2 separate regions of the Homo sapiens genome follow, and region 2 is linked to region 1. Evidence: fine-mapped expression QTL. A gene starts in region 1. The other region holds a variant in brackets. All regions are shown on one strand. Distances are from middle to middle. Region 1 holds the start of LINC00477 (long intergenic non-protein coding RNA 477). Region 2 has its middle 36 kb from the start of LINC00477.

Region 1 (2,920 bases):
TGAATGTATATTCTGCTGTTGAATGGAGTAATCTATAGATGTCATTAGATCAAGGTGATTGATAATACTGCTCAGGTCATCTATAGCCTTGATTTTTTTGCCCACTGGCTCTATCAAAGGGATGGTGAAGTCTCCACCCATAACATTGACACAGGGATGGTGAAGTCCCGCCTCTAACAATGGATTTGTCTAGTTCTCTTTTCATTTTTATTAGTCTTCTTTCATGTATTTTGACACTCTTGGTAATGCTTCCATGTTTACGATTGTTGTCTTCTTGGAGAATTGTTCCCTTTATCCTTATGTGGTACCCCTTTTTATTCCTGATAATGTTGCTCATTCTGTAGTTGGCTTTGTCTGAAATTCATTTAGCTACTCCAGCTTTCTTTTGATTACTTTTAGCATGATATATCTTTTTCTATCCCTTTACTCTTAACCTGAGTGTTTAAGTTTAAAGTGGGTTTCTTGTAGATAACATATAGTTGTATCTTGTCATTATCCACTATGACAATAGTGTCTTTTATTGGTGTATTTAGACGATTCACATTTAAGGAATTATTGATACACAGTTGACATTTGAACAATACAGGTTTGAACTGCGTGGCTTCTCTTTTTTTTTTTTTTTAGTGTTTGGGTGACCCCAGGCAATTTTATTACTTTATCCCTGAACTTCAGTTGCCTCATCTATAAGATGGGGATAATAATAGCACCCATTTCATAATTATGAAGATTAAATACATTAAGGAAAACACTAGTATGTGCCTAGCACCTGGTAAACACTCAACAAAGGTTATCTGTACATATTGATATCTCAGACAGGGACGGAATGTTTAACAGAAAACAGGAGGTTTTAGCCACTCACTTGTTCTCCTGGCTCCGGAAACATGAGCTGCCCCGCCCCAGTTTGTCCAAGCCCATCAAGATAGTTGTCCTTGTCCTTAATCTCCACAGGTGTTCAATGTGAGCCAACTGTCAGATGGCATTCATCTTCACAATTGAATAACCCATTTATGCCTAGTGTTCCATTATTGGAACGCTAAGCTTATGGGAGTTATTTATATCCTACTGTTCAAGGTCATTACCAAGATCTGACTTTTCACACAAAATAATTTGCAACCTCCAGCATAAATGGGATAATTGTGGCAGTTTTGGGGAGACGAAACTTTAGAGTTTAATCTTCCAGCTTGACTGACTTGGAAGCATTCCTGTCAATATAAAAGATCTTGTTCGGGGCGGTGGAGAAGCCGAGGCCGGCTCCGCGGCTGTACTTTCAGCTCATGGCCAGGCCATATTCCCGCTGCAGGCTCTGCTGCAGACTGTCGGCCACCTTCTTACTGAGGGCCACGTTGGACCTTGCAATCGGGCTGGGTGGGGCGGGAGGGTGGGGGTGGGGGTGGGGGCTAATCGAAGGGGACAAGTTTTTGAAGCCACCCGTAAGTTTGAGAAATTTCAGTTTCTGTTCCTCGTTCTCAAAACCAGCAGTATCCCACTGGCCAAACTGGCTTCCCGTCCACTTCCTGGTTTCAGAAGCTTCCGTTTTGCCTGACTGGCGATCAGTCTCTTCTTGCAAGGCCTTTCGCCCCTGGTCTATGTGCGCCTAGTCCATGTTGCCTTTCTTTTCCAACACCACCTCCAAGTCCGTGTCTGTTTCCTCCTTTCAAGGGTCTCCTGCTACCCCACTCTCTTTCCTTTTCTTTTTCTTCCTTTGCAGAGCCGGCTCCTCAATGACTGGCTGCTTTACCTTCTTCTTGGACTTCATCTTTTTCTTCGCGGGGGTTTTAGGGCCATCTCCTATGGGGATGTATTCCGGAGCCTCCACTTTGACTGGCTTCTTTTTACTTCGTTTCCTAGGGCAGCTCTCCATGGACCTGGAGGGCTTGGAGTGGCTTGGGAGGGCGTCTCCCTCCTGGTGGATTTTTTTTTCTTCTTCGCCTTCCCACCGTGTTCCCTGGGGCTCTTGTGCTTCCGCTTCTGCCCCAAGGCTACCTGTTCCTCACCCTCCTTCCCCACTGAGCAAGTGTCCACAGCATCCCCGACCTCGCAGAACCAAGGGTCCTGGACTGAGAAAGCTGTGGGGTCCTGGGCCCCCTTTTTTTCCTTCTTAAGTTTTTTAAGCTTCTTGCCAACTCTGGTTTCCTCCTCACCCTGTCTGGGGTCTGGGGAGATTTTCACCCCAGAGGCATGGGAGATGGCCAGAGATGACTTCCTTTTCTTCTGCCCACTGAGGAACTCCAAATGGCCAAGCACCTGGTTCCTTGGGCTGGATGACTTCTCTGTCCGTCTGGCACGCAGCGTGGTCTCAGGTTCTACGTGCCCCTCGCAAAGGGTGCTGACACCCTTCTCTTTCTTCTTTTTCTTCACTAGAGGCATCTCAGGTGCCTGCCCGTGGACCACACTCTTAGAGGGGGCTGTGGCTTTTATAGGAGAAACATGGGCAAAGTAATCATCATTGTTTAAAATTGAGTATTGAGTCCCTGGTTCTTTGACCACTTTCTTCTTCTTTTTCTTCTCTGGGATCCCAGGGCCCAGGTCTACTTTCCGGTGGGCCAAACTTCCCCGCCTCCACGTGAGAGCCGGCTCCGCCGTGACCCGGAAGTCCACTTTCGGGTTGCACGCGTGGCTTCTCTTACACACAAATTTTCTTCCACTTCTGCCACTCCTGAGACAGCAAGACTGATACCTTATTTTCCTCCTCCTCCTTGGCCTACTCAACATGAAGATGATGAGGATGACGACCTTTACGATGATCCACTTCCATCTAATGATTGGTAAATATATCTTTTCTTCCTTAAGATTTTCTTAATAATATTTTCTTTTCTTTAGTTTACCTTATTGTAAGAATCCAATATATAATATATTTAATACAAAATATGTGTTAATAGACTGTTTATGTTATTGTTAAGAATTCCAGTCAACAGTAGGC
Region 2 (2,920 bases), 36 kb after region 1:
CAAACGGCATAGCTGAAACTTGAACCCAGAGTGGACTGATTCTGAAGTCTGAGCTCTTGCTCATTGTAACATAGAAAAATATATTTTTAGTCCTGTTAAGTCATCCCTCAAAATGATGCTTGCATTTTCCCCTTTCTTCTATATTCACCCCTCTCACCCTGAATCATTGCAAGTTCCCCAAACTAGTATCTTTCCCTCGACTCTGCTCTATTTACCACTATCAGGCCAATCCTCCTGACATGCTGTTAATATTTAGAAATATTTCTCCAACATTCAGAGTGCCTGGGTACCACACATGGATGCGACTAAGATTCTTAAGTCTGGTTTCTAAGAGCTTCTTCAATGTCTCCAACTATCTTTTCAGGCTCATGTTTGAGACCTTCCTTTCAAGAATAATTTGCTTGTGATCTGGTTCAAGCTGAACAGAGATTTTCAGATGACTCCCAAACTATCTGCAACACATCAGCCCTATTAACTCTTCTCAGAATGCTCATACAGAAGCCATGCCAGTGCACAAAAGCCACTTCTGACACCTGGCCCTGTCTGACTCATGGATTTCTTCCAGGATTGCTCTTTCTATCTGCTTTAAACCTCCTTGTCAATTGACTTTCCTTGGCTCCCAATCCACTTTGCTCTGTATTTTTGCTTTCTCTTTTTGTTTTGTTTCTTCATTCATTCAGTAATCAATAAATATTTCTGGAGTGCCTACTATGAGCCAGACACCATGTTAACTGCTAGAGATTCAGTGGTGTGTGGAACAGGCACACACTTTGCACACAAGCAATTAAAGTCTATTAGGGAAGATCAACATTAATCAAATAATTATCAGCGTTTATGATTGCAAATTGTGGAACTGTATTTCACAGAAGATTATACAGCATATGAGAGAAGTTTCTGATGTATTTGAGGGAGGAGCAGTTAGAGGATGCTTACATGAAAATGTCACATTTTAAAGATGGCTAATGAGGTAATGAGGACAGGAGAAAAAAATCTTTCAAGGTGAAAGGAATAGCATGTGTAAGGTTTCCAAAGAGGGAGGGAAAAGAGTGTGTTCTTAGAATTAGAAGGGCAGCATGGCTGAAGCAGAGTGGAAGGGAAATAGATGGAGATGAGGTTGTAGAGAGAGATTGGGATCAGATCATTAAGCTTTTTCAGCTATGTTACAGAGTTGAGTCTTCATAATAACGGTGATGAAGAACCCATTGAGGTTTCTCAGGACAATAA[A/G]ATTTGTGCCTACAGCCTGTAGATCACATTTAAGAGAGGCAGGAATGAACGGATTTGGGTGAGCTAGAAAGGAGGCTATTGAAATGATTCACACAAGAGAAACATGGTGGCTTGGACTATAGCAGTAGTGTTAGAGAGGAAGGCAAGAGGAAGGATTTCAGAAACAAACATGCTGTTTCAGATGCTTTGTACCACCCTCCATCCCCATTCCACTAACCTATTGGGATACTCCCTCTGGTCATCTCCCAGTGTTTCCATGTTTCACAGCTTTAAAAAGTAGGTGCTTAAATCCATACTTCTAGTTCCTGGGGACTCTGCTGGTGGGGAGAAATTTGACACAGAACATGTAGTGCCTCGTGTCTACATATACATACTTGCCTTCACCTCTTTATGTCTTCCTTTTGTACAACGCTTCTCCCTCGTACAGATATTCTAAAATCCTGCCCATCCCTTAATTTCCAAATTACATTTTACTCTTTCACAGCATTCTCACCAAATATACTAGCTGAATATCTCTCACTCTGATCTTATGACACTTATATCTGTAACTATCTTTATGGCTTTCAGCATCTATTGTAGCATATTGTAATCATGTTGTGAGCATGTCTTATCTCCTGAGAGATATTGTGAGTTTGTGTCAAGGGACATCGATGCTGTAGCTCAATATTAACACTGCTATTTTGGATTTTCCCTTCTAGCTGGGTTATTTACTTGAGCCCTCTGAGTCTGATTCCTCATCTGCAGAATGGGTATAATTACATTTACTTTATGAAGCCATTATGAGGAATTAATGATAGAATGAATGCAAGGTACTTAAAAAAATCTCCGGCACATAATGAATCTCAGCATACAATAGCAGTTTATGGTTATAAACTTTATTCTTTGAAGTCAGAACCCTGTGTCTTATTACTACTTTTCTCTACTTGTAACTCAGTGAATATTTGTTGAATTCAGATTTGAATTTAAGTCTCATTTCTGCCAGGGGATACGAACACTGTATAAATAAATTTTGATACTTGTCTGTGAGAACTTCAAGTTGATAGGGGAGCTAGTAACAGAAACTGGTTATTTGTTATTGGGATAAGTATAGTGATAGAGAAATAAACCCAGATAGAGTATTTTGAGAGCACCGAAGAGAGGTTGGAGAAGGTTTTCTAAGACAACTTATGCCTGAGCTGAGTATTTTATTAATCAATTAGATACCATTAAAATAATGTATGCACATAATATAAAACCCAAGGCTATATAATAAAATAGCATTTTTGTCCTATTGACAACTATACCCACTCCATTTCTACTGCTTTCAATTCTGTGTTTCTAAGTAAAATGTTTATTCCTTGTTTTCCTTGTTTAAAAAAATGTTAGATAGGCCGGGCGCGGTGGCTCACGCCTGTAATCCCAGCACTTTGGGAGGCCGAGGCGGGTGGATCATGAGGTCAGGAGATCGAGACCATCCTGGCTAACAAGGTGAAACCCCGTCTCTACTAAAAATACAAAAAATTAGCCGGGCGCGGTGGCGGGCGCCTGTAGTCCCAGCTACTCGGGAGGCTGAGGCAGGAGAATGGCGTGAACCCGGGAAGCGGAGCTTGCATTGAGCCGAGATTGCGCCACTGCAGTCCGCAGTCCGGCCTGGGCGACAGAGCGAGACTCCGTCTCAAAAAAAAAAAAAAAAAAAAAAAATGTTAGATATCAGTTG

What was found.
Region 2: its variant is fine-mapped to the expression of LINC00477 in testis (GTEx, PIP above 0.99).

The regions. Positions count from the first base shown.
Region 1 is chr12:24,582,801-24,585,720 of GRCh38, reverse strand. LINC00477 (long intergenic non-protein coding RNA 477) reads left to right here and starts at 1,553. Exons shown (of 4, transcript NR_029451.2): 1 at 1,553-2,765. It also overlaps the pseudogene KNOP1P1.
Region 2 is chr12:24,547,163-24,550,082 of GRCh38, reverse strand. It overlaps a transcript of SOX5 not described here. Among named protein-coding and RNA genes, the nearest start is that of LINC00477, 36 kb to the left of the region's middle. The variant A/G (reference allele first, on the strand shown) is at 1,225.